3 separate regions of the Homo sapiens genome follow, and all the other regions are reported to be linked to region 3. Evidence: microRNA targets listed by miRTarBase, many of them from high-throughput screens and not tested one by one. Region 3 holds a microRNA gene; each other region holds the end of a gene's coding sequence.
What was found. Region 3 holds the annotated microRNA hsa-miR-4635 (UCUUGAAGUCAGAACCCGCAA, at 1,353-1,373, opposite strand). A microRNA usually pairs through its seed, bases 2 to 8, with sites in the 3' UTR of a target mRNA and lowers its output. Matches are read on the target gene's strand: a 7mer-m8 pairs with bases 2 to 8, a 7mer-A1 pairs with bases 2 to 7 and ends in A, and an 8mer does both.

Region 1 (3,000 bases), not on the chromosome of region 3:
AGCGAGCCGAGATAGCGCCACTGCACTCCAGCCTGGGAGACAGAGTGAGACCTGTCTCCCCTCCAAAAAAAAAAAAAAGAACTCGGTGTTTGCTCTGCAGGTTTGCTGGCTACCTTCTCTTTTCAGTACACTGGAAATAGCAGCTTGTGTTGTTTACCTACTCTTTGATCCTTTTTTTTTTTTTTTTCCTCTTGGCCTCAGGCTCCTGTTCTGGATGTCAGATATGCATCTGCCTCCTGAGAAACTGGTGGCTTTGAACACTTGGTGTGGACTACTGTGTTATCCGGGATATCAGGTATTATGAGACATCACCTAGCCATCTGCATCACATCTCTCTGGACAAGCAGCTATTACCAAAAAAGGCATATACTTCCAGTCCTGTGCTCCATCTGCCTTAATTCTTTGCTCGTTCCTCCATGTTGGCGCCACTTCCCAGAGAGCTCCACTGCATCTCACACTCTGCCCACGTGCTGGGGAAGTCTCACGGCCTGCACATCTCTTGTGACTCTGGGAACCGCCTCTCCCGCCGGAGCCCCCGAGCCCCACCAATGGCAGCTCTTCCCAGTCAGCAGCTTCAGAGCAGGCAGTCTCCTTGGAAGGCCCGACTCTGTTCCTGCATGGCCTGCAGTTTCTACTTTGTGCATAGAGTCATTTTCAGAGTCACCGCGACCCTGTTGGCCTTCTAGAAAGTTTCTTTTGTTCTTTTCTGAGACAACCACCTAAGTGATAATACGCTTTTTTGGAAACTAATATATATTGCCAGACTGCATCATAACCTTTATCATGCCAAGCATCCTGATGCAACTCACATTTCCCTAAACATGGGGTACAGTTATGATTTATAAATTGAGTTGGCTTAAATCTCCCTCTTCTCCCTTCCCAAGTGTTACAAAGATCATTTACTGCAACTGTCGTTGGACACTGTAGCTTAAAGGGAACGTGGACCTCAATGCTTTCTGCCTTCAACTTTTCAGCATTGTGACCCCAGGGTGGTTGCCACCCCATCTTTTCCTGACCCCCCCCACCCCCCCACCTCCAAGAGGTTCGGCCCACATCACTGTACCTGGTGCTTGTAAATTTGGAATTGGTGCCTTCTCCTTTTGGCAACCATGGTTATCAATCCTTTTTCTGTTTTAGTGTCTTATTTCTTCTTTCAAGTTATTTGCTAGCCAAAGATGACATCACTGAGATTAGGAGACAGGGGAGAGCTTGCTGCAGATTCTGACAGTGCAGATTTTAAATGTCAGGATATTAGAATAGCTGGCGCTGGTTTATGAAAGCTGCGCGTTGTTCCGCGTTCTCTCGGTGTGCCTGGCCTTTTATGTGGCACTCTGTATGTCAGTTTGTGTCCTTCATGTGCTGATGTGATTACACAAACACCATGCACTCTCTTTTCATATCAGAGTACAGGACAGAGAAGTGATCAATGTATTGGTCTAGTGAGACTGAGATGAAAAGAAATAACCTACAGAGTGGTCTGTAATGCCTTTTGGTTGGACTGGGAACAAGTAAAAATTTCTAATAAACATTTTGAGACTTCCAGAATCACTTTTGTTATCTTATCAGACCATGGGCCTGCTGAGGGTTGAGCAGACAGCCTGCATTCTAACATACCCTGTTCCCACCCCACGGCCATTCAGACTGCACTCAATACGCTGAAGTCGCTTTTGTTGTTGTTGTTGTTGTTTGCATCATTTGGATTTTTTTCCTGCTTTCAATACCAAAAAAATGCAGATGCTTTAAGGCCTAAACAGAATTCTGAAGAATTTAAAATATGCAATTAAAGTTTGATATGTTTTGTCTCCCAAGCACCTTGTTTTTTGTTGTTGTTGTTGTTGTTGAAGTCAGCTGATTTTCTCTTTAGAAAGAGGGTCAGCTAGAAACCTAGGTTTTTTGGAATTGTAAATTTTTTTTTAGTATAGTCTGGAGAGAAAGGTCATTCAAAAGGAAAGTACAATGGGACTTGCTGCCCTTCATCATCTCGTTCCCGTGCCAGGTGTGTGTTGGTCACGTAAAAGCCTGGGAAGCATCAGAGGAGTCCCGGATTGCTGCTGCTACCTGGAGACAGGGTTAGCAAAATAACACTAGTGATGAGGGAGAGGCTTCTTTTCACCATAAGCCTGCTGTGTACACCGAGGGCGGCAGGAGAAGCATGGGAAGGAGTCAGCCTAAGTTTGCACATTGCATAAAGGGTACACTAAGGTATGAGCTGAAGCTTTAGGTTCTCCGTGCTTCCCTCAAGACCTCCTTCTTGCTAACAGAAGCAGTAGGCAATTGCTGCAGTGCGTTTCTCACCCTGCCAATAGGTCTGTCTGTATCTCTGTTAAGGAAAATAGCCTGGTCCCTCCTGGCAGTGCTTGGAAGCTTGATGCTAATTTTTATATAGCGTGGCAAACTGACCAGCAGTGCCAGGCCTTGATCTGTATTCTGCACTATCCCTTTACTTGGTTCCTGGCACTGAATGGTCTCCAGCCCTGAAGAATCACGTGTGATCACAGCAGCTGACCTGGGCTTTCTCCCCGAGAGGAAGGGGCATGTCATTTTTATTTGACAGAGGGAAAATGGGAGCTGTCCTTGACTGCCTTTGTTGTGCTTTCCCGCGTAAGATAGCACTGTGTTTTAAACTGTTGCATTACACTGTCTTTGCAATGATGTAAATGTAAGAAATCACTTAGCTTTAAAAGCGCAGTGGTTTGATCTTATTTATATGAAGACTTTTTAACATATCAAGAATTAGGTGCATTGGCAGGTAGGGTTTGGGGTGTGATAACTGCTTCAGATGGAATGTTCACTTAAGCTTTGTCTTCTTAAAAATTATCAATGTGAATGTCATAATTATATATATTTTTGTGGAAAATTTTCTCCTAAGTATAAGTTATTGTGCAAAATATAGTGTCATTGATGCAAATAATAGTTTAACTTTTAGTTTAGAACTCCTAAAAGATATAAATTGTATTGCATATGCATTAAAAGTTTGTTTTATTTAATTTTATGTAGATG
Region 2 (3,347 bases), not on the chromosome of region 3:
ACATGGCCCAAGTGCTCCCTTGCCCTCTGTTAATAATGCAGGAATCACTAGAATGCATGCTCGCTGGTTTCACCTGGGTCCTGTGTTCCCCTTTGGCTCCATTGCCCTGCACAGGGAGCCAAAAAAGTCTTGCTCCTTTTTCAGAGGCCCTGTGCTGGTAGGCTGGGCAGGAGGTTGGCAGAAGAGGGGCGGTGAGGGCTGATTTGCTGCCAGAGGTTTAATGTTGTCCTCGTTCTGTTTTCAGGGGAGGCTCAGAAGCAAGAAGAAGATGAAAGTTGTGCCGCTGCTGAGGCGTTGACAGCGCCTGAGGATGCTGGGAGGCCCGCTGTCAACTCCCCAGCAAATCAGAGCCGCGGGAACCAATGCAAGCTCTTTCATCCTTCATTACCCCAGTTACCTTCTGAGGAAGAAGTAAACAGCCTTGGGAGGGAAATAATTAAACTGACAAAGGAACAGGCAGCTGCAGAACTGGAAGAGGTCAGAAGAGAGAGTCCCATAGAAGGTCAGAGGAGTGAGACGGGGCCAGCCCCGCCAGGCCTGGCCATCCAGGGGGAGCTCCCTAAATCTCACCTGGACTCCTTCGAGGCCAGCCGGCCAGCAGCCAAAGCTTCCACACCGGAAGACGGCAAAGGGATCCCAGAGGGCGGAGGCATGAGGAGCACCGTGAAAACCTGAAGGGGAGAGGGATCTGACACAATGACACATTGAAAGCCCCAGAGAGGGTCAAGAATGAAGCATCGGAATGGTGCGCTCACGTCGCCTTCTCCTGAAATACCTCCGAGTCTGCAAGTGAGAAAACGCACTGATCCTGTTGCAAACTGTGAATATTCTGATGATGCCAGTACAGTTTGATTTATTAAATGTAGGTCCTCAAGCTTCTCAGTGTCATCTCTTTTCTGCCAGAGAGTGCTACTGTGAACAGGGCCAGGCCCAGGAATCGTGTCCACCATATGGCTGGTTTTCAGCATCCGTCTTTCTGTCAGCTTTTGTTTTATCAGAGATAAGATGTTTTTGTATTAGCATTTAATGTTGTCAATCAAAATTATGGGAAGAGCTAGAAACTGATGGGGTTTTTAATCAGGTCCCCATCTTGGTCAAGGTTAGGCAGCTGGAGAGGAAGGTATAATTGAGCAAAACGTGTCCAGAGGACCCATGGCTGCACCCCATCAAGTCAGGGCCCAGGAGGACTGCCTGGCATGGGTGTGCTTGGCATTGTGCCCACAGCACTGCTGTCGTGGTACAGACTGGCAGTTGGAAGGGGCCTTAAGCCGGCTGAGAAGTTTGGGCTTCTGGGTTGAAATCCACAGCCCCGGTTGAGGCCTGTGTGCTGAGTGCCAGAGCTGGAGTTTTCTAGCTTGTAAATCTGGAGAATTAACTGATCTGAAGTGACTGGGAGGGGTGAGCATAAAAGCCGGGGAACAGGACTCCCAGTGGTGGTCTGGTTTTTTTTGTGAGATGAGATGAGAGCTACCACCTGGAAATGCTCATTCTCTGCATTCAGCCTGTCTCACATACAGGATTGTATGGCCATTTCAGGTTTGGGAAAGATCTACCTGCTGGGAGCCAGTCTAGTTTCCTGCACCACCTGGAACTTCCAAACCCTTCACTCCTTCAACAGAATGTTGAGGCTGCCTCATTTGTGCCACCAAGTACGGGAATCTTAAAGACAGAAACAGAGCTCATGACCTTTTATGGGAAAGAGAGAGGAAAACAAAACAACTTCACAACAGCATGGCAAGGGGGGATGTGGAACCAAGGACATGATACAGGGATGGGAAAGGAGGGCATGCTCAATTCTAGCTGGTTCTTTCCTTTCAGATAAAAATGAGCTTTTCTAGTTGGCATCCGGCACTGCAGAAAACTAAAAGTCATCCAGCCATAGCTTTTTCCTTCCCTGGAAAGCCTGAGACTAGATCCCAAAGCTCAGAATGCCTCTGAGAACCAGAATCACTCCTTTGAGAGGCGCTCCTTGCAGGAAAAAGAGAGGCTCCCAGAGTGGTAGCCTCTCAGTGAAAATGCATCCTAAAAATTCAATGTTTATACCAGGCTCATGACACTAAGATGTGACATCTGGACACGAGGGGTCAGCCACGTGGATACATCCCTCCCAGATTGCATCTCCAGGAATCACTCTGCTAGCAGAATGGGCGCCCCATCCCTTACTATGCTGCTCCTCCTCAAAGTGCAGCCCAGAAGGACCCAGGCCTTTGATGCACATTGGGTGGGTCTCCCACTACTTTAGTTGAAATGGGAGCATGCTGGAGTCGGCGTTCTGTTGCTTCTGGTGAGAAGGACATCCCATTGACCCCTGGCCACCAGGTCCAGTATTCCATCCTTCCTTCTGTCCCAGCCTATCGCCCTCCCCACCAGGCCCACCCCCACAACTTCTCCTCAAGGGAGGTTGCTCCCGCAGCTGGAGGGCTTGCACAGACCAGCAGTCACAGAAATCATTCTTCCTGCTGTACTGGGCCTTAACTGCCTGCAAATGTCCAGCACTACTGCATAGGATGCCAGAGCCACCGAAGGAAAACACAGCCAAGTTTAATAATAATAAAAGGAAAAATCTCAGCCTGCAGAACTCTGGTTTTGACCCACCATCGGCCAGATGCACATCTTCAGGGCCTGTTGAGCACCTTCTGAAAAGCAGGGCTCGTAATAGACTCCAGCACATTCCATCAGAGTCAGGAAAACTGCAGTGAGTCCCAGAGAATCTAGGGTGCAGGGCAGGGAGCAGGAGTCATAAGGAGTGATAACCTAAACTGTGTGTAGTCAGCGGGGAGGGTCTTATGTTATCAGGTGAAATGAGAGCCAGTAAGTTAGTTGATCCTGTCACAGATATAACCCTGATAACACCCCATAGATACGCGACACGTGTGTCCTGCCCCTGCTTTCCCCATCCAACATGGTTCTTCTGTTCCACAGACATTAAAGGGGCTTTCTGCAATTACTTACAGCTGTCTTTTGTCTTTTTTAGGATCAAAGTTTAAGGTTGTGGCATTCTGTCCCCTACTTCACTAGATAACCCTGCATCAGTCATGGTCCTCTCAGCTTCAAGCCACACTTAACAGAAACTTAAGCGGTAGGGAAATGAATTATGTTGTATAACAGGAACTTCGAAAGTAAGGCATTCCAGGGCTATACATTCAAGAAAGTTGTCAAGGTTCTAGGTTTCCATCTTCCTGCTCTTCCTGCTGTGTCAGCTGCTTTCTCATGATAACGAGGTGGCTGCAACAGCTCCAGATAACACCTGTTCAAAGGCAGAAGGAAGTTTCTTCCCACATACGTGTGTGTGTGTGTTTCAAGAGCGAGAAACCCAGTTCCTATCACATTTTATTGGTCAGAATGAT
Region 3 (3,347 bases):
CGTCTCACCCACCGCACCCGCCGTGCGGGATCCCTGTGTCTCACCCGCCGCACCCGGCTCATGGGAGTTGGGAGCAGCTGTGCCTGTTAAGCACCAGTATTTAAAACAGCACACCAGATCAGGTGCGGTGGCTCACACCTGTCATCCCAACACTTTGGGAGGCCGAGGCGGGTGGATCACCTGAGGTCAGAAGTTCGAGACCAGCCTGGCCATCATGGTGAAACCCCATTGCTACTAAAAATACAAAGAAAAAAAAAAAAATTAGCCAGGTATGGTGACGTGTACCTGTAGTCCCAGCTACTCAGGAGGCTGAGGCAGGAGAATTGCCTGAACCCAGGAGGTGGAGGTTCCAGCCTTGGGGACAGAGCGAGACTCTGTCTCAAAACTTTTTTTAAAAAAATAAACAGCATGCCAGACTGAATGGCAGCGACCCAGACGCCCCTCTCCAGCCAGGTGGCACTTGTCCCTGCGGCCAGGGCTACGGAGGGGTGGGCAGCCCCAGCCCTGCCAGAGACATGGCTGGGAGCATGGGGGGTGCTGGGAGCTCCAGGTTCCCGGACTTCAGAGCTAACAACCCCTGCTCAGGAGCTGGGGAGCTGCTTCTGGCACCACGGAGGGGCTGGGGGTGCGGCTGGGGCCATGGGCTCACTTTGCCTGTTTCCTCTGGGCCCCAGTGGCCGCCCCACCTGGCCCCCTGGCAGGGCTGGTTCTCCCAGGCAGCATTTTGTTACTATTTTACTAAGCGGTTTTATGACTTGGAAATAACGTTATTCATACGACTATTAGCACCAATAATAACCCCTACAACCTTGAACCCGCAAAGCCTCGTCCAAACAAGACAAACTCCAGCCATCGTCCCCGAAGACACAGCCACATGGAAACTAAGCCCAGTGTACAAAACTGGGCAGAAAACCATCCAGCGTCACGCAGGCCTGCAGCCCTCGGCCTAGGAAAGGTCCTGCAGGGCAAGAGGAAGAACAACCCCACAGGACAACTGAGTTCCACGGGAACTGACACAGAAACACAGAAGGTTGTCGGTGAGGCACGAAGCCGTGCCTGGCCTCACTCACAGCCCGACACAAACCAGGAGCAGGTGCTCGGGGCCTCTGCCATACCCAGGGCTGGGGGGCTGGGGGGCTGGGGGACTGAGGGACTGGGGGACTGGGGGGCTGCGGGGCTGGAGAGACCGCACCTCCCAGGCTGCTGCAGGGGCACAGGTGGCTTCCTGGGGGACAGCGTGACAGTCTCTATCCAGCTTTATGTCTTCCCAGCACCCACCTCCAGGAGTCCAGGCCCCTGAGGACCTGCAAAACCATGCGCTGGGGTCACGGGAGCCGGAAGAAACCAGGACTTTGCGGGTTCTGACTTCAAGACCAGTGTTGTCGGCGTGATCCAAGTGGGGTCAGAACCCACAAAGTCCCGGGACCGCCAGCAGGACCGGAGGGGAAGGCACAGCCGTGGATCCGGGTGGGCTGGTAGCGAGCAGGCATGGTTCCATCCAGCACAAGGGGCCCACCAGATCCCCAGGATCCAGAGCTCCATGCTTGGGGGCCGGGGGCAAGCGCTCCAATGCCAGGCCTCCGCCCATCAACCCCGTCCTCTCCAGGCGTGAAGGACGGGACGAGTCTCTGTCCAGGCCCTGCCTATAGCTGACCGAGGGCCTGTCTGTCCCACGTGACAGCTGCAGCCTGGCCTCACTGACCAGTGCCCCTCTCCCCGGGTCCCGACTGCTGATGTGTGGTTTCCAGCCGTGGGAAGGTGAGCCCATCTGGGGAGAGCACCCAAAACGGGAGGTGCTCAGAGGTGCACCCACCATGGCAACACCACTGAGGTGTGAGGTCCTGGACGGGGTCCCGGGCCGAGGAGGACACGGGACCATGGAGGACACGGAGATGCTGATGCCGGCTCTAGGGCAACACCCACACCCGTGTTACACGAGGTGTCCACAAGCAACACACGGGGCTCTGTGCTTTCTGTGATGTCCTGGCGATTCCAAAACCAAGCCTCCTTGACCACCCCGCAAGGCCTGGCAGCCCCCGCCACAATCGCCACCACCTTCTCCTCCCCACCTCCACCTCCACCTCCTGATCTCCCCCTCCACCCCCACCTCACGAGGCCACAGCCCTCCCGATCTCCACTTCCCCCTCCACCCCCACCTCACGAGGCCACAGCCCTCCCGATCTCCACTTCCCCCTCCACCCCCACCTCACGAGGCCCACAGCCCTCCCGGGCCGCCCCCCACCTCCTCCCCACCTCCCCCCGGCCTCCTCCCCTCAAGCCCTCGGGACTCACCATCTCCACCACCTCCACCTCGGCGCTGATGCGCAAGTGGTACAAGAACATCTGCAGGTCCTTCTTCATCTGGATGCTGTTGTCGTCCACCTGGGCCACGGTGAAGATACGCATCCGGCACTTCCTCCACACCTGCAGACAGGGAGGGCATGGCTGTGGGGCCTCAGAGGAGCCCGTCCCGGCCCGCAGCACGTGGGGTGGCCGTGCTCCGGCTGGCGTGTCCCCGTCGCACGCCCCACCTTGTGCTGGCGCAGCAGGAAGGGCAGCAGCATGAGCATGCCGCCGTCGTGCACGATCCACCACACGTCGATGTGGCCCCCGCCGAAGCGCTCCTGGTTTTGCGGAAACGAGTCGACGTTCTTGGCCACCAGCAGAGCCTGGTGCGCGGCGGTGGTGTCGCGGACGGTGTCTGCGGAGAGAGGCGGCCGTCCGCAGGTCATCTGAGGCCAGGGTGCGGAAGGGGCCTCCCCGGGGACTCACAGCCAGTGCAGGGGCGGGCACGGCGAGGCGAGGGGGGTCCCCACAAAGCCCCCACCCTCACTCCGTCAGCTCCTCCAAGGACCAGCCAGAGACTCACAGCAGAGTTCAGCTGCTGGTCATGTGTCCAGGGAATCCCCCAGCCCCTGCGGGGCTCTGGGAGAAGGGGAGGGAGTGCCTGGACACTTTCAGATGGCCGCTCCCAGGGCCAGGGCCTTCGACAGCCTCAGAGCACACACCCTCGGGTCGGTGGCCTCAAGGCCCATCGGGACCTGACAGCGCACAGGCCTGGGGACGTTGAGGGGACAGCGAGGAGACAGAGGGGACGGCGAGGAGACAGTGAAGGGATAGCGAGGAGACGGTGAAGGGACAGTGAGGGGACGGTGAGGGGACAGCGAGGAGACGGTGAAGGGACAGCGAGGGGACGGCGAGGAGACGGTGAAGGGACAGCAAGGGGACGGTGAGGGGACAGCGAGGAGACGGCGAGGGGACAGTGAGGGAACGGCGAGGGGACGGCGAAGCGACGGCGAGGAGACGGCGAGGGGACAGCGAGGGGACGGCGAGGAGATGGTGAGGGG

Region 1: miRTarBase lists RCOR1 as a target of hsa-miR-4635. The part of its 3' UTR that is shown has no 7-base or 8-base seed match.
Region 2: the mRNA of CCDC149 is a reported target of hsa-miR-4635. Seed matches in the 3' UTR shown: 7mer-m8 at 3,049-3,055, 7mer-A1 at 3,143-3,149 and 7mer-A1 at 3,298-3,304.

Annotation. Positions count from the first base shown.
Region 1 is chr14:102,726,267-102,729,266 of GRCh38, forward strand. RCOR1 (REST corepressor 1) reads left to right here. Exons shown (of 12, transcript NM_015156.4): 12 at 202-3,000. The coding sequence ends at 240. Among named protein-coding and RNA genes, the nearest start is that of TRAF3, 50 kb to the right of the region's middle.
Region 2 is chr4:24,805,717-24,809,063 of GRCh38, reverse strand. It overlaps CCDC149 (coiled-coil domain containing 149), which reads left to right. Exons shown (of 13, transcript NM_001395273.1): 13 at 245-3,347. The coding sequence ends at 675. Among named protein-coding and RNA genes, the nearest start is that of SOD3, 12 kb to the right of the region's middle. RefSeq lists an enhancer at 1-321.
Region 3 is chr5:1,061,552-1,064,898 of GRCh38, forward strand. MIR4635 (microRNA 4635) reads right to left here and starts at 1,423; the gene lies at 1,345-1,423. It overlaps SLC12A7 (solute carrier family 12 member 7), which reads right to left. Exons shown (of 24, transcript NM_006598.3): 19 at 2,532-2,701; 20 at 2,293-2,424.